Linked DNA regions of Homo sapiens: regions 1 and 3 are each linked to region 2. Evidence: fine-mapped expression QTL. A gene starts in region 2. Each other region holds a variant in brackets. All regions are shown on one strand. Distances are between the middles of the regions.

What was found.
Region 1: its variant is fine-mapped to the expression of KLRD1 in whole blood (TOPMed, PIP above 0.99).
Region 3: its variant is fine-mapped to the expression of KLRD1 in whole blood (INTERVAL, PIP above 0.99).

What each region holds. Positions count from the first base shown.
Region 1 is chr12:10,324,948-10,333,138 of GRCh38, forward strand. KLRD1 (killer cell lectin like receptor D1) reads left to right here. Exons shown (of 6, transcript NM_002262.5): 6 at 1-4,661. LINC02617 (long intergenic non-protein coding RNA 2617) reads right to left here. Exons shown (of 3, transcript NR_159946.1): 3 at 7,913-8,116. Among named protein-coding and RNA genes, the nearest start is that of LINC02617, 9.2 kb to the right of the region's middle. The variant A/T (reference allele first, on the strand shown) is at 4,640.
Region 2 is chr12:10,303,636-10,311,826 of GRCh38, forward strand. It overlaps KLRD1 (killer cell lectin like receptor D1), which reads left to right and starts at 4,235. Exons shown (of 6, transcript NM_002262.5): 1 at 4,235-4,449; 2 at 5,753-5,845; 3 at 5,991-6,053; 4 at 7,829-7,980. The coding sequence starts at 4,443.
Region 3 is chr12:10,279,764-10,287,954 of GRCh38, forward strand. LOC105369656 (a long non-coding RNA gene) reads right to left here. Exons shown (of 2, transcript XR_931353.3): 2 at 672-832. It also overlaps a transcript of KLRD1 not described here. Among named protein-coding and RNA genes, the nearest start is that of KLRD1, 24 kb to the right of the region's middle. The variant G/A (reference allele first, on the strand shown) is at 4,796.

The DNA of each region.
Region 1 (8,191 bases), 21 kb after region 2:
TGAATAAAGACAGTTTTTACCTCTTTCTTTTGAAAACTGTGTGCCTTTAATTCTTTTTATCACCTTGTCACAGTGGCCAGAATATTCAACACAAAGTTGAATACAAGTGGTGAGTAAACACCCTTGTTTTGCTATTGATCTTAGAGCATGAATATTCACTTTTTTTACCTTTATACTTAATTTTAGCTGTAGGATTTTCATAAATGACCTTTACTAGGTTGAGAAAGTTCCCTCCTATTCCTAGTCTGATGAGAATTTTTATAAGGAGTACATATGACATATGCTTTTATTAAATGTTTTATTCTGCCTCGATTGAAATCAGATAGTTTTTATTTCCCAGTTATAAACCTCAGTTGTTCATGTTATCTTTTTTACGTATCTTTGCAGATGCTTTGCTAATTTTTTAAAATTTTATTTTATTGAGGTAAATACAACATAAGATCTATCCTCTTAACAAATTTTCAAGTCTACAGTACAGTATTATTAACAATAGGTACAATGTTGTATAGTAGATCTCTATAATTTATTCATCTTGCATAATTGAGGCTTTATGCCCTTTGATTAACGACGTCCCATTTTTTCCTCTCTCCATTCCTGGCAACCACCATTCTATTCTCTGATTTTATAAGCTTGACCACTTTAGATATTTCACGTAAGTGGAATCATATAGTATTTATCCTGTGACTTGTTTATTTCATTTAGCATAATGTCCTCAAGTTTCATCCACATTGTTACATATTGCAGGATTTCATTTTTAAGGCTGGATAATATTCTATTGTATGTGTATGTACACATTGGCTACTGTGACTAGTATAGCAATGGACAGTAGTATACTAATATTTCTTTGAGATTCTTATTTCAATTCTTTTGCATAATTACCCAGAAAGGGGATTGGTGGATCATATGGTAGTTCTATTTTTAATTTTTTGAGAAATCACCATCCTGTTTTCCACAGAAGCAGCACAATTTTTCATTCCCACCAAAGTGTTCAAGGGGTCTAATTACCCCACGTACTTCTCAACACTTGTCTTTCATTTGTTTGATAATAGCCATCCTTATAAGTGAGAGATGATATTTGGTGGTTATAATTTGCATTTCCCTGATGATTAGTGATATTGAGCATCATTTCATATGCCCATTGACCCTTTGTATGTTTTTTATGAAGAAATGACCATTCAAGTCTTTGATACATTTTTTAATTGGGTTACTTGTGTTTTTTTTAATATTGAGTTGTAGGAGTTCTTTATATGTTTTGGATATTGACTCCTTTTCTGATATATGATTTGCAATTATTTTCTCCCATTCTGTAGATCATCCTTTCATTCCATTGGTTATTTCCTTTGTGAACCCTGAAAATTTGAGACAGGTCTCAGTTAATTTAGAAAGTTTATTTTGCAAAGGTTGAGAACATATGCCCATAACACAGCCTCACCTCAGGAGGTCCTGCTGACATGTGCCCAAGGTGGTCAGGGCACAGTTTGGTTTTATACATTTTAGGGAGACATGAGACATCAATCAACATATGTAAAATGAACAGTGGTTTGGTCTAGAAAGGTGGGACAATTCAAAGCAGAAGTGAAACAACTGGAAGCAAGGAGGGGGCTTCCAGGTCACAGGTAAGAGACAAATGGTTGCACCTTTTTGTTTCTGATTAGCCTTTCCAAAGGAGGCAATCAGATATGCATTTATCTCAGTGAGCAAAGAGATGACTTTGAATAGAATGGGGGGCTCCCAGGTCACAGGTAAGGGACAAATGGTTGCATCTTTTTGTTTCTGATTAGCCTTTCCAAAGGAGGCAATCAGATACGTATTTATCTCAGTGAGCAAAGAGATGACTTTGAATAGAATGGGAGGCAGTTTTGCCCTAAGCAGTTCCCAGCTTGAATTTTCCCTTTTGTTGAGTGATTTTGGGGGCCCAAGATATTTTCCTTTCACACCTTTGATGCGAACAAGCTGTTTGTTTGCTATAGTCCTACTTGTCTATTCTTGCTTTTGTTGCCTGTGCTTTTGGTGTCAGATTGATGATATCATTGCCAAAACCAATGTCAAAAGGTTTTCCTCTATGTTTTCTTTGAAGGGCTTTACATTTTCAGTACTTACATTTAGGCTTTTAATCCATTTGAAATTTATTTTTGCATATGGTGTAAGATAAGCAATTTCTTTGCAATATGGATGTTCATTTTTCCCGTCACTGTTTGTTGAAGAAACTGTCATTTCCCCTTAAATAGTCCTGCCACCCAAAGACCGTTTAACCATATTTGCAAAGTTTATTCCCAAGTTCTCCAATCTGTTTAATTGGTCTATATGTTCATCTTTATGCCAGTGCCATATTGTTTCAATTATTGTAGCTTTGTAATATATTTTGATATCAGGAAGTTTGAGGCCTCTGGCCTTCTGTTTCTTGCTCAAGATTTGTTTGGCTATTCAGGGCTTTTTGTGGTTCCATGTATATTTTAGTATCATTGTTTTCCTAATTCTAAAATGCCATTGAGGTCTTGATAGGTATTGCACTAAATCTGCAGATCACATTGTGAAATACAAATATTTTAACTATATGAAGTCTTTTAATAAATGAATATAGGAGGATTTTTGCATGTTGATTTTGTACCCTGCAACTTTACTTGGTTTTAGGAGGCTTTTTTGTGGATTCTTTAGAGCATGCCATAGGCAAACAGGGACCATTGTACTTCTTCTTTTACAATCTGTATGTTGTTAATTTCTTTTCCTTGCCTAAGAGCTTTAAGTAGGACAAGGGTTAAATAGAAATGGCAAGTGCAAACATCCTTGCCATGTTTCTGATGTCAGAGGAAAAGTTCAGCTTTTTCCATAGCATGATATTAGCTATGCACTTTACATATAGGGCCTTCAAAATGTTGAAATATTTTTCTCAAATTCTAGGTTGGCAGGAGTTATCATCATAAAATGGGTATTAAATTTTGTGAAAACTTTTTTTCTGAATCTATTGAGATGCACAGGTGACATTTATCCTTCATTCTATTAATGTGGTATATTACATTAATTGATTTTGTATGTTAGGCTATCCTTGCACCCCAGGGATAAATGCCACTTGCTTATGGCATATACTCCTTTTAGTGTACTGTTGAATTAATTTTGCTACTACTTTGTTGAGGATTTTTGCATCTACGTTTACTAGACATATTGGCTTATAGTTTTCTTGTGGTATCTTTGACAAGCTTTGGTGTAATGGTAATGCTGGCCACATAAAATTAGTTTGAAAGTATTTATTCTTTTTAAATTTTTATATAATAGCTTGGGAAAGATGGCCATTAATTTCTCCTTAAATATTTGGTGGCTTCACCAGAAGAGCCATCTTGTCCTGGGAATTTTTTTGTTGTAAGTTTCTTGATTACTGATTCAATCTTCATTCTAGTTATAGATACGCTCATATTTTCTATTTCTTCATAATTCAGTCTTGGTAGGTCCTTGTCTTTGTGAATTTTTTCATTTCTTCTAGGTTATCCAATTTGTTGGCCTATAATTGTTCTTAGTTGTCTCTTACCATCTTTTATATTTCTGTGGCATCAGTTGCAATGTCTTATTTCTGATTTCATTTATTTAAGGCCTCTCTTCTTTTTCTTAGTCTAGCTAAAGGTTTGTCAAGTTATTTATATTTTCCAAAAACTAACTCTTAGTTTTGTTTACTTTTTATATATCCTTTCCATTCACTATTTTATTTCTGAACTAATCTTTATTATTTTCTTTATTCTTCTAAATTTGAACTTTGTTTGTTCTTTTCTACATTTCTAGTTGCTTGGGATATGTATTAGTCCATTTTCACACTGTTGATAAAGACTTAACTGAGAGACTGGGTAATTTGTAAAGAAAAAGAGGTTTAATGGACTCACAGTTCCACGTGGCTGGGGAGGCCTCACTATCATGGCAGAAGGTAAAACACATGTCTCACATGGCGGCAGACAAGAGAGAATGAAAGCCAAGCCAAAGGGGGTTTCCCCTTATAAAACCATCTGATTTCATAAGACTGATTCACTACCATGAGAACAGTATGGGGGAAACCACCCCCATGATTCAATTATCTCCCACTGGGTCCCTCCACCAACATGGGGGAATTATGGGAGCTACAATTCAAGATGAGATTTGGGTGGGGACACAGCCAAACCATATCAAGGTATAAAGTGCATTGTTTGAGACCTTTCTTTTTTCTTAATGCAGATATTCATCACTATAAACTTTTCTTTTAGCCCTACTTTTACTACATCCCATAAGTTTTGTTAGACTTTATTTTTGTTTTCATTTATTCTAATGTGTTTTTAAATTTCCCTTTTGATTTATTCTTTGCAGATTGGTTGTTCAAAAATGTATTGTTAAATTATCACATATTTATTAGTTTTCCTTTTGCAACTGATTTCTAGTTTCATTCCCTTGATGCTGTAAAAGATACTTGATATGACTTCAATTTTCTTAATTTTCTTAAGACTTCTTTTATGACCTAACATATGATCTATCCTGCAGAATGATCCATGTGCACTTGAGAAGAATGTATACTCTGCTGCTGTTGGATGGAATGTTCTGCACATGTCTGTAGGTGACTTGACTTGCAGTGTTGATCAGGTCATCTGGGTCTTTGTTGCCTTTATGTTTGGTTGTTCTATCCATTATT[A/T]AAAGTGAGCACTGAAATCTCCTACTGTTATTGTATTGCTATCTATTTCTCCCTTAAGTTCAGTCAATGTTTGCTTTATACCTTTAGATACTCTGATGTTGGGTGCATATATATTTAAAATTATTGTATCCTCCAATGTGAATTGACGCCTTTATCATTATGTAATATCCTTCTTTTTTTCTTGTGACAATTTTTGACTTAAAGTCTATTTTTTATAATATCAGTAAAGGCATTTTTTGTTGTCTTTTAGTTATTATTTGGCGAAGGATTTTTGCAGTCTTCTTCAACCTTCATGCTAGTCCAACTGGCTTTCTTTTTTTCTTGGTAGATTCCAGGCATCTAGAATATCCCAGGTCCTGTCAGTGCTCTGAGATAAACAGGAATAAAGCTAGCTCCTCAGGCAATCTCCAGAAAATATGGATTATCAGTTGTTTAGTTCAACTTTTTCCCCCAAGGAGAAGCTGAGAGTTAAAGGTTTTGGTCCACTCACTCCATCTTGATCCAAGGAGTGGTTGAAACTGCCAGCTCACCCCACCATCTATGTTCTTGCTGGTCCCACGCAGCCAGGCTATGCTTGGTTCTATCAGTACACTGAGACAGGCTAGAGAGAAGCCAGTCTTAGGAGTAGCCCCTGGAAAAATTGGGGAATTGGACATGCCATCCATCATTTATTAACCAAGAGCAAAGCTGGGAGCAGGGGAGTTTCTCCCTGGTTTTTTGGCACTGTGCTGGGGGCAGGAATTAGGGAAGGAGTGTACCTTAGATTTCCCTAAGGCTTCAACATGAGTAGTTTCACCAACAGCATTGGAGCATCTCAACTAGTTTCTTAATTTCCCACAAAGAAAATTTGTCTATGAATTTTTAGTTGAATTGGTGCATTTGTAGAGAGAAAAGAGACCAGGGCTTCCCACTCTGTCATCTTGCTAATTTTACTCCACCATTTATTTTATAATTTAAATATATAAAAATAAGATACATATTTATAATTTATGTGTATGTATATGTATATATTTTAAATTTAATGTATATATAAAAACATTTGCTGTATTTCTAAACTGGAATACAATACAATGAAATTTAATTGCATCTTAAATGGACAAAACATTACCATGCGTAAATGGAAAAAATTGTGGCTGGAGTTACCTCATGATGGAGAGAACAAATACCACTGTACACAACGCCACCAAACATCCTGTATGAGCTATGATAACACAATCCCATATAGTACTAAGTAGGCTTTCTGATATTTTCTACTCGCCAACTGAGGTTTTCTTAAATATATTCTTAGAAGTGTTTCTAGCTATGATGCACATATGTTGTAAAATCCAATGTAATATTTTTTTCATACATGGTTTTAATTGCTCCAACATTAAAATGGTTAGACTTGCATTTTTTCAGCCAACATAGGTGACAGCTGTTTGTTAAAATACTAAATAAATTACACAGACAGGCTACAAGAAAGTAAGCCTGTACATTAAGAACACAGTCACCTGAGGTTAACATTTTAGAATTTTTATTTATTGAGAGCTTATAATAAGTCTTCCATACAACCTTTGACAGGTTTGAAGTATGAAATAGATTTCAGAGTAAGGATTTAAGAGAAAGGGCACTTTAACAAATAACAGTAGCTAAATCCTCAGTTTCTCACGTTGCAGAGATGGTTGTCTAATCCCAGATATCTCCTATCTCTCCCCCAAACTCATAAAATTAATAAGAAAAGCAAATAAAACCACATAATACCTTATCCTTTCAACATCTCTAGGACACATAGAGTACCACAACCTTCAAATTACCTATAAATAGAGAAAAAATATTGCAAAAGAACACTCGCTCCTGCCTACCACTGAATACCTGCGGTGCAGGATAGGGAGATTAGTCTTTAACATACTCAGAAGAGAAGACTAGAGGACATAAATGAATCACAGATACAATAAACCCTGAAAGATAAAACTTCAACAATCAATGCCAGAATACTTAACACAATTTTGGACTTGGTAGTTCATAGTACTGGGAAAAGGCTTGAAACTGAAGACCAGAAGTGGAAAACTTGGAAAGGAAAACAATGGTTTCTTGGAGAGAAGCAGAAAATAAAGGAGTGACACTCCTTAGAAATGTGACTATCAAAGCAAATAAGTAATGTGAGGGACTTAAGAATCCTGCAGAAAGGAAAGAGAAAAAAGACATGACTATCATTTGCCCTTCCCAATCCCATCATCACCACCACCCATAGAGGACACTATGCTGAATAGGACAGAACTGACAGAAGAGGGAGCTCTCTAACTAGGTTCCTTGTCCACGAAACAGGAATAGGAAAAAACAGACCATATTTATGTGAAACCTCTTTAAAACTTCAGATAATGTAAATAAAAATATTTTTCTTTTGAAAAATCACTCACTCAAAAAAGGAAACAACCACTAAGCAGATGAAAAGTGTAATAAACACTGCAAATTGAATTAGACATTCTAACGCAATCATAAAAACAAGACCACAAATGCCAAAAAAATAATAAGGTTGGTATGAAACAGGAGTTGAACTGTGAGAGGTAATAGTATACCACAGTAAAATAATGAACAAAGATTTACAAGATGAATGTTAGCAATAAGAAAGGGGTTGCAATTCTGATGCCAAAGAAGTAGACATAAAAACAGAACTAAATGAGGCAAAGAAAGATGTTGTATAATATTAAAATCTACATACTGCAATGAAGAGTACATAGTTAAGAATTTATGTAGTAATTAATACACTGATTATTTATATAAAATACAAATTACAAGAGATGCAAGAAAAAAAAAGACCATAACATATTAATACAGGGTGATTTTAATATACCACTCTCAATATAAGGCAGAAAGTGTGGGCAAAAATAAGTTATTTTCCGGAAGATCTAAATAAGATAGTATAGCAGATATTTTGAATACATATTGATCACTATGCACTGATAATATAAAATATATTTTTTTCCAAATGCACCTGAAACATTCACAAAAATTGAACAAATAAAGCTCATGAGAAAAGTAAAACTGTATGGCTATCTCCTTAACTAGAAAAAAATATACGTCTACACACATACAGTCAACCTTGAACAATGTGGGCATTAGGACCACTGACCTCCTCTGCAGTTGACAATCCATATATAACTTTTGACTCCCTAAAAACTTAACAACTAATAAACTATTTTTGACACCATCATTTTGTTTCTAGTTCTACATTTCAATCAAAATGATTAAAACAAATAAAACCAAACTTGTTTACAAATATACGAAGAGTCACTGTGGAGGGAAAAGCTCTTTAATTTATTTCTCAAGATATAGATCCAACAGGACTGCAAAGTGGAACAGTTCTCAGAAGCCTGATTCAGGAAGATGTACCCGGGTTTTGGCACCAAATTTCACACGCGTCCGTGTGAAGAGACCACCAAACAGGCTTTGTGTGAGCAACATGGCCGTTTATTTCACCTGGGTGCAGGCGGGCTGAGTCTGAAAAGAGAGTCAGCAAAGGGAGATAAGGGTGGGGCCGTTTTATAGGATTTGGGTAGGTAAAGGAAAATTACA
Region 2 (8,191 bases):
GAAATATGCCAACAAAGATAAATATTTTTAGGGGACATATTTTAGTCTCCTGCTATCATATTTTGGGGTGATATGTCCTGAGCCCCAACAACACATTTCTTTTTCTGGCATGCATCCCCAAATAGCCCCTGCATATAAGATAAGCAAAATAATTTGGGATATTTATATATCAAGTCCTGAGATCCATTGGTATGAGGGTGGCAAAGTTTTGAGCAGATCTAGGGGGAAAAGAAGTCCCAAGGCCTACAGATGCAAAAGTCTGTTTAAGTAAAACAAAGGTTCCTAGATATAAGAGAGGGGCAATGATAACTTGGGCTATAAGATGAAAGGCAAGGAGTGTTTGCTTCTATACATGTAATTGTATGTATATTTCTCATTATCTATGTGGACAAAACTTAACCAGTTCTTCAAGAAGGTAACATAAAGGATTGGATTGTCAAATCAGTATCACAAGCATCCTCAGAGATTTCACCCAGTATCATGCTTTACTCATAATTTCAGTTATACAATAATTGTGAGATGCAGACAAAACAGTGGAAAACCCAGGCCTGCAAAAGCACCCACTCATTCTTACTTTCCCCTTAGGACACACTCTGGCCCAGACAAACAGATAAACATATGAGGTCTCTTAATGGTGTTTGTGGCTGCACCGTTTACACAAAAGGAGATGTTTTGGTTATGACACATCTCCATTTTATACTCAGATGGTTACATGGTTATGGTTACACATAGCTTATGTGACATTTTTCCAGGAAGCCAGCCTCCATAAACCCACAGATTCTAGTTTTATGCTTTTTTTTTATATAGTGTGTTTTGCTCTTGTCACCCAGGCTGGAGTGCAATGGTGCGATCTCAGCTCATCAAGTTCAAGAGACTCTAATGCCTCAGCCTCCCAAGTAGCAGGGGTTACAGGTGAGTGCCACCATGCCCGACTAATTTTGTATTTTTAGTAGAGACAGGGTTTCTCCATGTTGGCCAGGCTGGCCTTGAACTCCTGACCTCAGGTGATCCACCTGCCTTGGCCTCCAAAAGAGCTGAGATTACAGGCGTGAGCCACTATGCCCAGCCTTAGTTTTATTTTTTTATTTGATTTTACCACTAACAATTTTAGACAATCTAATACATCCTGCTAAAATCATTCCATTGATAAGGATTTTGCAAGCAAAACACACTATATATAAGAAACCACTATAGCTAGTAGGTTTGTTATTAGCATGTTTACAATGAGATTTTACCAGGTCAGTAACGTCTTTTGTTTTTTCTCAGGGAGCCCTCTCTCTCTGTTAAAAGAATAATTTGCAGCCTGATGTGAGCAATTTTCTTTCCGCTCAAAGAATGCATTTTCTAAAAGCAGTGAGATCAAAATAAATTTTTCCCTTGGGGATACTAGAACGTATACTGTTATTTTGTTCTGCAACATTTTAGTTATACATTTTTAGGTAGGGAAAAGACTTCACTGTTTATATGTTAAGTGAACATTAGTTTCTTTTCCCTGGCTTTTGACTAAGGTTTAAAAGTTGACTTAGCTATTGAAGTCATCACTTGCTCTTACCAAGGGCACTAGTAAATTGCAGGGGAGGAAGAGGGCATCTTCCTGCAATGGATACTAGGGGATGGAAAGTCCTGCAAAGAGAGACGTTCTTTTGGCAGGATACCTAACTTTTCAAAAGCAAATTTATGTAAGTGAAGCTGGATATTTCAGCGGAATTTAGTCTGGTTTCTCTCGGCAGCACACTCAGAGAATACTTTGAGTAGAAACTTTATTTGGAATTGTGTATGCAATAAATGTAGGAAAGGAAATGTAATAGGAAAGGGAAAGTGGAACGCAATAAAGGTTATTTTCTTAATCTAGCTTCTAGAGGAGGTGACTGGAACATAACACTATTGAGTAATTCTGGGAACTGGGCAAAACACAATGTTCAGAATTACCTGACTTTAGGGCTGAGACTGCTGGACTGTATAGCAAATCACAAGATTCGTTTGTTGACGCCCATTCTGGTGATGATTATTCAGCACTTCCGGATTAGCATGTCTGAGAACAGCAAGGCTTTCAGCAGTTATTGGAGAAAAAAAGAACCCATAGATACAGCTATACAGATAACTAGTTGGCCATAGTTCCCCAAATATTCCAAGGGACATAGGCGAGGCAATGATAACTTCAGGAACAAGTGGAGATGAGTGGGAGAGATACAGTACATGGAAATCATTCACCTGTCTACGTACAAAAATAAATAGAAAGAACAGAGGCCGGGCACGGTGGCTCACGCCTGTAATCCCAGCACTTTGGGAGGCCGAGGCGGGCGGATCACGAGGTCAGGAGATCGAGACAATCCTGGCTAACACGGTGAAACCCCGTCTCTACTAAAAAAAAAAAATACAAAAAATTAGCTGGGCGTGGTGGCGGGAGCCTGTAGCCCCAGCTACTCGGTAGGCCGAGGCAGGAGAATGGCGTGAACACGGGAGGCGGAGCTTGCAGTGAGCCGAGTGAGCCACTGCACTCCAGCCTGGGTGACAGAGACTCCATCTCAAAAAACAAACAAACAAAAACAAACAAAAAAAGAACAATCAGAGTTGGCAGCTCAGAAAGAGTTAAAGAGGTATATACATATATGTTTACTGTGTGTGTGTATGTGTGTGTGTGTGTGTGTGTTTAGGTATCTTAAATATTTAAGCCTGGAGTTCTTGAAGTAAACTTGTATTTGTTGGATTTTTATTTCTAAGTCAGTGAACTAAGATGAAAAAAAGGACAATGACTGATGGACGTATTCTCACCAAACAGGGTTCTAAAAACTTAGAACCTCTAACTTCCAAATAAAGGTGGTTGTGTTAGTAATGAAAGTGTAGTAATAATCCCTATTGCACATTCTGTCATAAATTTGTACTCTCTCAAGAGAAAAACTAAAAGCAAACCCCTAATCTCCTATATTTTGAGGCAATTTTACATGGGGGAAAAATAGTATCAGACAGGTTTCTTCCAGACCAGCTTTTTCTAACACTAAAAATGAATAGATTTCAAGTAAGCAAAGGATTTTTAAATAAATCACTTCAACTAAGATTTGCATACAGTCTGGATGAAGTAGATTTTACGCTTATATTCTTCAGTGAGGATTTATAGCTCAACAAATTTGTTGGTGCAATGAAAGCAGCTCTAGGCACACAATGCAAACTGAAAAGATGGAAAGTTTTGACTTCATAAAAACTGAGAAGTCAAAGTAGTCTTTTCTTTCATTTTTTTCTGTTGTTGGTTGAAAGCCCATCTTTTACAAAAGGGTTTATCTATAGTAATATTATAATGCTTGAACATAAACAATATACAAAATATAATACACAAAACGTTTATTTGAGTGTCTGCTTTTGTATGGGGGTGCATGGTAGATTGTATTTCCAGATACTAAATCATGGATCGAAATCTCTCCTTTCAAGATTCTTATTATAGCCAATCTCTTCCACATTGGAAATTTGACCTGTTCCACATTTGATATTCCTATTAACAAGGTTACTCTTCTGTAGATGAAAAAGTGTATATCGAAGTATCAGTATAGTATCTGAATTAGATAACACACTAAACAATATAATAATGTATTAGTAAAAATAAGGAAAATAAAGAAGCTGAAGTCGTGCTTAAAGAACTTTAAGAAAATGAAAATTGAGGTGTTGAAAAAAGCTTTTAAGGCTAACGTGAATGAGGCGTCCAAGTGGGAAACCCATCCAGTTCTACTTTTTTGAACTTTGCCTGTCGTGGCCAGGATAATTAGGTAGAGATCAGAAGAACAGAGTGAGACATGGAAATCCCAATTTATGTGACCTTGGGCAAATTACTTAGCTCTGTATGCCTCAGTTTTCTCTTTGATAGATTGAAGATATTTATATATCTTTACTATCAAGCCATTTACAGAAATAAATGAGCTAAGATATGCCAAGTGCTTTAAATTGTGTTAAGTACAAGGTAAATAATAAATGTTTATTATTAAAAGAGGAAAATTCTGTAAGTAATTTTGTTATGCTAAGTAAATTTACCTTTGGTTTGCCCATCATTTCCTTCATTTTCCAGATAACCCTTTAAAATGAATTTGATTTTCAAACAATAAAAAACAAAACAGCAACAAAACTCCCTCTGACCTCCTCTCACCTTCTTTAGTCCTTGCCAAAGTGTTAATATTGCAAAAGTACTGTGAGAATTTCCTGTATTGTGGTTCCTGGAACACTTCAGAGGCTTGTGATTCTACTGCTTCTTATTCACACTATAATACATGTCTCACCAATAGATGATTCAAGAACATCATTTAAATACACAATTTTTCATTCTCTATTTTTGCTAAATTTCTTCATACTCAACTTTCAGATTCTTTAATCTCCAGCTCAGCTTCAACAATTCAACGCTGTTCTTTCTGAAAAAGTACACATCGTGCCTTCTCTACTTCGCTCTTGGAACATAATTTCTCATGGCAGGTATGTGTGATTTCAGTCACTAAATTAAAAATAACCAGAAAAGCTATTTCTTGGATTGGCTGATTTTGGGGTAATGCTTTAAGAGAAAAGGACATGATTAACAGTGGATGTTTTTAGGATTTTCATGCATTAGCACTTTCCACATTCATTATATTTTCCTGATTCTTCATTGTATAACTTAGACATGATTTCATGAAGTTTTTTCCACAGGTTTGAAGAGTGGTTTCTGACAGGGCTACCTTTAAATTCTGAGTGAGAACTGAACTTTAGCCTGGTTAAATTGTGAGCAACAGTGTTCTAGTATAGCAATAGAAAATGCCAAATATTAATGACACAATGCTGAAAAGGTTTTAATTGACTATTTATGTTGTGACATCCAAAAATTACACAAATGAACAGTTTGACACATTGTACTGTTGTTAATGACATCACTCTTTGAGAGTGTGTTCACGTTAGCACAGAATCTCCTAATGTTGAAATGTTTTAGGTGAAAGGCCTAAAAGCAAGTAATTTTGAGTATGAACAAATGGAATGTTCTAGGGGAAAAAGGATTGTTTATGTATGTTCAATATACTGTGAAATGAAGCCAGGCCTCAAAGTTGTTACCCATCAATTTGTTATCAGTTATCACACCAAGTCCAGAATGTTCCTATGTCTTCTTTTCCCTATAATATCTCTACGAACCAATGAGCAGCTAGACATTTATCAGAGCAAAACCTGCACTGAGATGAGGAGAGGGCATACTCTCAACTAGTATTATTGTGACAATGGTAGACTACGTTGAATGAAAGATTCTTGAGCTAGACACACTTTCATGTGATTTCTGACTTGGATACTTACTTGCTTTGATACCTTGAGAAAATAACATTATTATTGGACCTTATGTTTTCTCATCTATGTAATGAGAACCATACTATCTATCTTGTGATTTTGTTGAGAGAATAAAAATAAATGCCTGTTATGTAAGTCCATAAAACACAACGTGGTGCTTGTTAATATCTTCTACCTCCAGATCTTTAAGCACCTCTGCCAATTTAAAATAAATGGTAAATTCACTTTACTGCAACAGAGCTGGTAGAGAAGAAAATGTTTGAATAATCTTCCTGAAGAATAAGATACATCACATAAAAATGTTGGTATTGGGTGAAGTCCCGATTGGAAAGTCTTCAGTGTTTTATTGGCAAGATGACTCCGTTATCAAATGAAAGAATGTTGTGGATTCTCCGTCACTAGTTTCTGCTTTTAAGAACTCAGCTCCTGAGTTTGCTCTTTAAGTCATTACTCTGTCTGTCTTTCTCTACAGTGTTTAAGACCACTCTGTGGAGGTTAATTTCTGGGACCTTAGGGATAATATGCCTTTCGTTGATGTCTACGTTGGGAATTTTGTTGAAAAATTGTAAGTTTTTCTAAGCAAGTCTCCATAAAAATCAAAACTGTGAAGACATCATTTAATAATAAAGGCTTCATCTTGCTAATGTGTAATATTTTAGTATTTCATAAACCCATACCTAATTAAACAAATTTCTAATCATTTCTTATAGCTTTTACTAAACTGAGTATTGAGCCAGCATTTACTCCAGGACCCAACATAGAACTCCAGAAAGGTAGGTCACATTTTTTGGAAAACTTAGCATTGGTAAAAGATTAAATAGGCAGTTTCTTGTTTTTCACACAGAGAGGCATGATGGAATATTATACTTAGTAATAGAAATTTGCCTACCAGTGTAGGATAGTCTCATTTTACATTGCTCAATCTAATGTAAAAATGATTAAATTACACTGAATGTGTATCATTTGTACATTTAACTAATCAGGAAAATAGTAGCCTGAAACGAAAGATATGTTTCCTATATGAGTGCTCATAATTAAGTAACAAAAAATAAACCACAGGAAATGTTACAGTTAATCCTCATTACCTGCCTGAATTTGCTTATAACCTATACTTTTGCATCTCACTACTTTTCCTTTTCCAGAATATACTGCACAGATTTCTAAACCTTACTTATCCAGTGAAAGCCAGCTCAAAGTCCAATTTTCGTTTTTGGAGATGGAGTTTTGCTCTTGTCGTCCAGGCTGGAGTGCAGTGGCACGATCTTGGCTCACTGCCACATCAGCCTCCCTGGTTCAAGTGATTCTCCCACCTTCCTGCCTCAGCCTCCCAAGTAGCTGGGACTACAGGCGCCCGCCACCATGCCCAGCTAATTTTTGTGTTATTAGTAGAGTCAGGGTTTCGCCATGTTGGCCAGGCTGGTCTCGAACTCCTGACCTCAGGTCATCCACCTGCCTCGGCTTCCAAAGTGTTGGGATTATGCCGTACCCAGCAGAGCCACTGCGCCCGGCCTCAATTTTCTAAATATGTATTTTTCGGAATGCGCCCCAAGTTGTCTCACCATCATCTTGATTATATAGTGTTTATTTACAGTGCAACATCTTGGCCAGGCACAGTGGCTCACGTCTGTAATCCCAGCTCTTTGGGAGGCTGAGGTAGGCATATTACTTGAGGTCAGAAGTTCAAGACAGGCCAACCCCGTCTGTACTAAAAATACAAAAATTAGCCAGGCATGGCGGCACGCACCTGTAGTATCAGTTACTCAGGAGGCTGAGGCATGAGAATCACTTGAACCTGGGAGGCGGAGGTTGAAGGGAGCTGAGATGGTGCCACTGCACTCCAGCCTGGGCAACACAGCAAGACTCTGTCTCAAAAACAATTAAAAAATATAAAAATAATAGTGCAACATCTTCAGCACTACTTATATGGCAAAGATTTGAGTGCCTATGACGTGTCATGTTTTTATTACCGTGGGTAACAAACGTTGAAGACACTATTATTGATAAACTGTATAATTAAGCCTCAAGATAATTGGTTTATTTATATTCCCTTTTCAAAAATAAGATATCCAAACATATATCAAAATTCTCCAAATGTACCATATTCTTTTCTGACTCAGAAAGTATGCTAAAATGTTTTCCTCCTTTAAATCTTTTTCATCTAGTTAACTCCTATTTATGCTACAGTACTTAGTTTTGAGTCACTTCCTCAAAAAAAGGTTCTTGTAACTGCCCCTCATCTTACACTCTGCTACATGCTGTTTTAACATACTTAATTTTTTTGTACTTATCTAAATCATCACTAAATATCGTTAATAAATTATTGAAAATTATATAATTGTAATTCTATCTCTAGAATATAATCTCCATGAGGAAAAAGCATCATGTTCATGTCTAATTAGTTCACATTAGTAGCCCCTGAAGTGTGGTGTATACAGTAGATTCTGAATGTTAAAAGAATACACAGCAAATAATTTTTGAATAATTAAATAGCATTGAAAAAAATGTCTAGTCTCCAGTGTCATTAGTCATGCTTTATGTTTTCTGTCAGACTCTGACTGCTGTTCTTGCCAAGAAAAATGGGTTGGGTACCGGTGCAACTGTTACTTCATTTCCAGTGAACAGAAAACTTGGAACGAAAGTCGGCATCTCTGTGCTTCTCAGAAATCCAGCCTGCTTCAGCTTCAAAACACAGATGAACTGGCATGTGCTGAGTCTGATTTTCTACATTTTCTTTGATCTAGAAAAATATACTATCTAAACAAGTTAAATACTTTGGTTTAAGTCATTAATCACATAGTAAGTGGATGGTTATATTGGAATTGAGTTATCTGTTCTGTGTACCTTAAAGTAGTCATTGTAAAATCTTTATTAAATTCCTTAATGATTATATCATGGGAATACAAATCAAGAT
Region 3 (8,191 bases), 24 kb before region 2:
TTTCACATTATTATCTGTCTCTACATTCCTCCCTCTTTCCTCTTCCAACAAAAAATCCTTTTATGATTCTGAAGCTAATGTTGTTACCTGTGGTCCTACTTGTCCAAATGATAATGACACTAATGTGATAGTTAATAGTGGTCACCACATCCAGGCTTGCAAATCTCAGTTTTGATTTCCTTCTCCTCTGTTAAGTAAAACCTACTGCTTCTGGGCCAGATACACAGATTTGACTTTCAATATCTCTTGCAGTAGAATTTTATTATTTTTCATCAGAAATGTCTTTCTCCTTTCCCATGACACAAGTTAGAATTACCAACAATCGTTACAATAACATCGGTGGTCTAGGTGCTAAATGTTCTTTCCAGGGCTAGCAACACTGTGGTTGGAAGTGTTCTGTACAGAGGAACGTACAGTGAAATGATGTGTCAGCCACACTTTTTGCACACCTTGAGTGTATTAACCAGATGCCTGATGTTTAAATGAAAAATAATCACTGGATTAAATGCAGGAGAAAAATCTCTTTTCCTTTCTGAAGAAAAAATTCAACATGGGCTAGATCAGAATAGAGATGGACCGCTTCAGAATAAATATTTATTTAATAATTATATGGAAAACATTTAAGTAGCCAATATTCTAGGAAAATATACAGCAGAATACTTAATCAGAACTTTGTTTTTATTTCTTTATTATTAATTGCAAATAGATTTTTTAGCTACCCATAGTCTAGACAATATTGTGTAGGGCAGCAGGATGATGTTCACGCCGTGCTCCATCGTTGAGTATCAGAAGATGCCAAGAGTTCAGGACAGATTCTAGCCATTTCCAGGACCTGAAAATGAGGAAGGAGCTAGAGAATTATATAATTTTTCCACTTTCTCATCCCAGCTTCTCTTCTCCTACCAATGCTTTCCAATGGTTGAAAACAGACAGAAGCCAGAGGGTGAGGAAGACTGTGTGATACAGTTGTCAGAGCTCAGCTGCACAGAATGCAGCAAAAAAGCATGGAGAATGGAGGTGAGGTGTGGTTTGAAAACCAGGTGTTGAGAATCCTGCCCCCAGAAGCCTGTGGTGGTAGAGTTGTGAAAGATCCACTGGGAACCCGTTGCACATCCATATAATAAACTATGTGTGAATGTTTCTTGTAGGTAAAAGGGGTCCAGATGAGAGCAGGGAATAACCTGGACTCATCCTAGATTCTATAGTAGGCTGAATAATGGCTCCAAGTATATCCAGGTCATAATCATTGGAAGCTGTGAATGCTACCTTATAGGGCGAGAGATACTTAGGAGAAGTGAGAAGAGATTGAGGATCTTGAGATTGAAGGATTATTTTGGATTATCAAAGTCAGCTTAAAATGTAACCCCAAGTATCCTTATAAAAGGGATGCAGAGGGAGATTTGAGTACAGAAAAGGAGGAGGCAGTGCAATCATGGGAACAGAAGCTGGAAAGACAAAACCACAAGTGAGGGAACGCTGGCAGACATGAGAAGCTGGATGAGGAGAGGAACAGATTCAGCCCTGCTGTAACCTTGATATTAGCTCCATAAGACTTTTCAGACTCCAACCCTCTAAAACTGTAAGAGAATAATTTTTGTTGTTTTTCTTACTAAATTTGTGCTTGTTTGTTACAGCAGCAATAGTATACTAAGACAGCTGCCATGCATGAAGAGTGATAGGTGGGATATAGCGCTCTAACAGAAAATATGAGACACCTGGTTTGAGGGTGAGGAAGAATCAAAACCACACAACACACAAGTGCAGGTTCATTGCCCATGTCAGGAGTTGTAGTTGCAGGGCTCCGCAGGGATGTATCCAAGAACCCCCTGAGATTCTCTCCCGAGACAAAGAGAGGAATCATCTACACTACCTTTTTCTGTGCTGATTTTCTCATCTGAGTTCAGTTGGAGCCAAAGGAAAAAGAAAAATTTTAGCTTTGCATAAAATTCAAAAATTTTGTTATTATATAGATTTAGGAATTTGAATTCCTGAAATGACACATTCCCGTGACTGAACATGACTAAGAGACGATTATCTGAGAATTACTTACATAATTGGAGACTCCGGGGAAGCAGGTGAAGAGCAAGACTATATATCCAATTTAGAGGGAAATTGAGGGAAACCTTGGTCATAAACTTACACGGCAGTATTTGAATTATTCTAATTGTTTTGGTTACATAAATAGAATTCTGTAGTCTTGAGAAACAATAATTCTCATACAAATGTAGCCTTCTAATCTGAATTCTGTTAAAACTACCAATAACCACTAATCTCTTCTAGTTTTAATCTTCTGGTTTATCATTTTTGTGAATTTGAGAATAAAGTACTCTGATCGTTATATGTCACTCTTCTATTCATTATTTTTATAAAAATATAAATATTTGATTTCTCTAACATTGCCTATAATTTTTTAATGTCAGCATTATATAATAAAATACATTCTCCATAAAGTTACAAATATCAAATAAAAACATATACACATATGTATACATACATTTTTTTTTTTTTTTGAGACTGAGTTTCACTCTTATTGCCCAGGCTGGGGTGTAATGGCATGATCTCGGCTCACCACAACCTCCGCCTCCCGGCTTCAAGTGATTCTCTTGCTTCAGCCTTCCTGAGTAGCTGGGATTACAGGCATGCACTACCATGCCCGGCTAATTTTGTATTTTTAGTAGAGATGGGGTTTCTCCATGTTGGTCAGGCTGATCTCGAACTCCTGACCTCAGATGATCCGCCTGCCTCAGCCTCCCAAAGTGCTGGGATTACAGGTGTGAGCCACCACATCTGGCAAATAAAAATATAATTACTATAAAGTTCATATATAGTATTATGTTTAAAATGGTATGCCACTTTATATTTTGGCTTTAAGTTATTGGTCCTGTGACTGAACTTTGGCTTCTTTCTCTTTTGTAAGAAATATTGTAGAGCATACATAATGATGTGGGTACAAAGTTAGAAGATGTGTTCAAGGAAGGCATTCCAAAGGAGGTGTCATTTGAGTAATGTCAAATGAGCGACGTTTGACGTAGAGAGTCTCTAAAATATTTGAGCAAGGAACTGTTCAAATAGTGGACAGTCTCTACAACCTAAGACTGAATGGTTTGTTTGAGAAGTAGCATTGGGGCTAGATCAGAGGGAGGGACTGAGCAGAAATAGGTAGAAATAAAGACAGAGAAATTGTCAGGGAAACAAGAGTGTAGTAGATATTATTCAAGGTAGGTTGATGTATTCGTGAATGTCCAGGCAGGAAAACAAATTCTGTGCCAAGTCATTACATAGAGGGAAGTTAACAGAGGAGGGTATTTATCAAACAGTTGGAGAAATCTAAGAGTCCGTCAGGAGAAAGAAGACAATTCAGATATGGGCAAAACAGAAAGCTGGTACTATTCCCAGAGCTAGAGGAAACAAGGGAGCAGGTGGGTTTACCAGAACCACTTGATGGGGACTGGCACCACAGTGGCTGGTGCCTGCCACGAGGCAGTTGCTATTTGGCAGCAGTTCAAACAACATAGCATGAGGGAAGGACAAAAACACGATTCCATTTGTATGAGGCATCTAAAATAGTCTAATTCATAGAAGCAAGGAGCAGAATAGTGGTTACCAGGGACAGTGAGGAGCGGAGAGTGGGGATAAGGTTTTAGTAATGCAAAATGAGTAAGCTCTAGAGATCTGCTGTACAACATTGTGCCTAGACTTAACAATATTGTATTGTACATTTCAAAATTTGTTAATAGAGTAGATCTCATGGTGTATTCCTATCACAATAAAATAAATATTAAAATTAAATAAAACAGACCAGTACATAGCATGTGTGGTCACTGCAGGAGATAAAGCCTGAAGCAGAGAGGGGAAAGACAAAATAACAGGCTTCTCCCCTCTTCCTACCTTCCAAATCTCAACCCAGTGGCTCCATTGACTCCACCTACCTGGAAGCTGGTTAGCCATGGAGGTGGTGAAACATGTGTTGCAGGAATCAGCACCCCAAGAAACAAGCAGAACAGGGGAAAACCAGGGAGGACAAAGAGAAAAGTGACTGACAGAGTGGAAGAAACCAAATCTATCAATGCATAGAACCATTATATTTTGGGAGAGATACTTCTCATACTCAATCAAAAGTAAGACTTGTTGGCTGGGCATGGTGGCTCATGCCTGTAATCCCAACACTTTGGGAGGCCGAGGTGGGCGGATCACCTGAGGTCAGGAGTTCAAGACCAGCCTGGCCAACATGGTGAAATCTCATCTCTATTAAAAATACAAAAAAAAAAAAAAAAATAGCTGGGCATGGTGGTGGGCGCTTGTAATCCCAGCTACTCAGGAGGCTGAGGCAGGAGAATCACCTGAACTGGGAGGTGGAGGTTGCAGTGAGCCCAGATCGCACCAGTGCACTCCAGCCTGGGTGACAAGAGTAAAACTCTCTCTCAAAAAACAACAGTAACAACAACAACAACAACAACAAAAGACTTGTTAACACAATATTCTGTGAAGAGATTCAACTTACCTTGTCCAATCTATACATAGGTTTACTATAACATGTGTGTAAAATCACTCAGATAAATTATCAGTATGAAACCACATGTGGAGGGGCTCAGTAAGTGGGGAATAGGTGTTTTGAACAAAGAATTGAGTATAATTTAATCCACATACTGACACAGGAGATAAGTCCCCAGTTCTTTATCCATAAGGCTAAAAACCAAATCTCTGTAAACAAAATGTTTTCATTAGTTTGGTTCCAAAACCTGAACTTAGCTAATCATAGTTTTTGTTTTATACATTTTGCTGTGGAAATATTAAT[G/A]TGCTGGGTTATAGCGTGAATCATCAAATGCCAATGAGGCTGTTAATTCATGTATGTATAAACACATATATTTTAAAATAAAAACTAATAAATTTTAAAGTACATTTCTCTCCACAAATTTCAGATAAGAAATTAGGGTCTCTGGGCCAGGCACAGTGGCTCACACCTGTAATCCCAGCACTTTGGGAGGCCAAGGCGGGCAGATCACCTGAGGTCAGAAGTTCGAGACCAGCCTCAACGTGGAGAAATCCCGTCTCTACTAAAAATACAAAATTAGCCGGGCATGGTGGTGCATGCCTGTAATCCCAGCTACTCAGGAGGCTGAGGCAGGAGAATTGCTTGAACCTGGGAGGCGGAGGTTGCGGTGAGCCCAGATCGTGCCATTGCACTCCAGCCTGGGCAACAAGAGCGAAACTCCATCTCAAAAAAAAAAGAAATTAGGGTCTCTGTATCCTACACATCATTTAGTTTCCACTTAAAAGTTTTTAGATGTATGGTGAGAGAACTATATATAAAAGAACAATCTATGCCCTATTCCTGTGAGATTTCTCTTCATTATCTGGCTCTACTGATGTTGCCAGTGTACCATGCTAGCAATGTTGCATATTAACCTGGAGTAAAATATCATTTCTGTATTTTCAAAATTCTTTACTACTATTTATAAAATAAATTCTTACCTTTAGATTGTGTTGTTGCTAAAATTGAAATTTAAGTAGAGAGTCGTGTGACTGATAAAAATGGGTTCCTTCTTTTAAAAACAGTCTGTAAAACCACAGCCAGTCAAGTCACGTTTATTCTAGAAATTATTTTTGCCATATGCTAGTTTTCTTTTCCTCTCATGTGAACCATCTTTATGTCTAGTCTGAAAAATTCCTGTTACAGTCACCATTCTGTCATGATAAGGGTTCTGAAATAACTCAGGGACAAACCATTCCTTTCTTTAAGCTTCCAATATGAAATAAGTCCTTTGTGTATCAATAGTCACCAGGATAATTTTTCACATGGTTTTATTTAACATCTTTCTTCATGGTACCTTAAAGTTGTTTTTTTTGTGTGTCTTTACCTGCCCATTATTTCCACCTACAAAACACGCTATCTCTAAGCACATTATCCGAAGAAAATTCCAGTTAAAAATCATCTCATAGAAAATATGACTAGTATTTACAGTCCAGTCAATGCTTTATGATTCTTATGTTATTTTTTCTTTGTGATTGACTCTTTCCTATTCCCTCCTCTTCTCTTAACAGGTAAATATTGTCACAGCTCTAAGTTTAGTAATGTTTCCTATGTTTACACTTGCTGGAATAACAAAAATAGCGCAGCTACAGTGCTAGTGATCAGCCACATCCATGCTTGTAAACCTCAGTTCTGGTCTCTTCTCTCCTCCTTAAGCTGTGTCTTCTGCTTTTTGCCCAGGTAAATTGCTTCAACTCCCAATATTGTTTGCAACAGCATCTTACTGTTTTCGCCAGACACGCCATTTCCTCTACCCATTACCCATCCACTTTATCCCCAACATCCTGCGGCCACACCAAGACCAGTGTAGGTGTTAACTGTTATTTTAGGCAGCAGCAACTCTGTGGTTGGAAACATTCTGTACCATACGGTGTGATGTGTCAGCCACACCTGTTACACATAAAGTGTACTGATGACTGAGGTCTCACAGGGGTCCAGGGTCATATCAGAGTCCGGAGATTTCCGTGAAAGCTTAAAGTTCAGTCTGCAAACTCACTGTAACTAATAATGAATAGCTTATGTCCTATCTACCTCAATATGTTTCTTAATGGTTTTGAGCACTAATTAGGTGTTAAATACCCTATATGTTTATACATTAAACCATTCTCAGAACATATTTCCAATAAACTATTTAGTTGCATTTTACGTTTTACACATGATGGAAAAGAATCTTAAAGGGGTTATGTAACCTACTCAAGTTTACGATCTACCAAAAGCAGAATCAAACATTTGAAACTACTCACTTTTGACATCTTGTATTTAGCAGATTGAAGAAGCAGAAAGAATAATTACCTGATAAGGATTGATTAGAAATTAGTTTTGAATGCAAAATAGTCTTTGAATCATCATTTTATTTCGCTTATGGTGCTTTTTTTTTTTTTTTTTTTTTTTTTTTATAGAGACGGGATCTCACTTTGTTGCCCAGGCTGGTCCCAAACTCCTGAGATCAAGTCATGCTCCCATCTTGGCCTCCCAAAGTGTTGGAATTACAGGCATGAGCCACCGCATCTGGTCCCGTAACTGTTTACATTCAGTTTTGTTCTTATAAAGAACCTCACTGGGCACCAGGTGCAGTGGCTCACACCTGTAATCCCAGCACTCTGGGAGGCGAGGCAGGGGGATCACCTGAGGTCATGAGTTCGAGACCAGCCTGGCCAATGTGGCAAAACCCCATTTCTACTAAGAATACAACAATTAGACGGGCGTGGTGGTGCGCCTGTAGTCCCAGCTACTCAGGAGGCTGAGGCAGGAGAATCGCTTGAACCCGGGAGGCAGAGGTTGCAGTGAGCTGAGATTGTACCACTGCACTCCAGCCTGGGTGACAGAGTGAGACTCTGTCTCAAAACAAAAACAAAACCCTCTTTTTTTTTATTGTTTATCTGTTTGTGTTTTTTTGATGATTAAAAACCGTGGTGAAACTGTACCTAAAAGCAAAGATGGATATGCATTGTAAGGCACAGGTTTGAAGTTAGACAGCCATGGGAGAATGCAAGGGTATGTATGAGATTGGTATAGTCAATAAGTATTTGCTGGTATTTGTTTCATACACAAATACATGCATATATACAAATAACTCCGAATTTTTTTTTATTTAACACTCAGACCTCTCACAGATAGGTTGCAAAAAAATGTTATACAAATAATGAGAGCATTTCCTCCCATGAAACCTAACTTCAAACAAATCCAAATAAATTCTAAGTTTTAAAAAAGACCATCCATTTTGGTGCCAACATCCTTTTCAAGTGAATTATTTATATACTGAAGTATTATAAAACCTATAAATAGATATTGTTATATATAAACAGATACTTTTACGAATTAAATTATGCTTCTTAGAAGACAGAAGCATGAAATGGAGAAACGAGGAAATAAAATATGTAACTAAAAATTTGCTAGGACTTTAAAAACCACCCCTAGGTTATACAAAACTACGGGGATAACTTAGTTTAATTATCTGTCTAAATACGGATTTTTACCTCTGTAAGAAAGATCAGGCCAGGCGCAGTGGCTCATGCCTGTAATCCCAGCACTTTGGGAGGCCGAGGCAGGCGGATCATGAGGTCAGGAGATCGAGACCATTCTGGCTAACATGGTGAAACCCTGTCTCTACTAAAATACAAAAAATTAGCCGGGCGTGGTGGCGGGCGCCTGTAGTCCCAG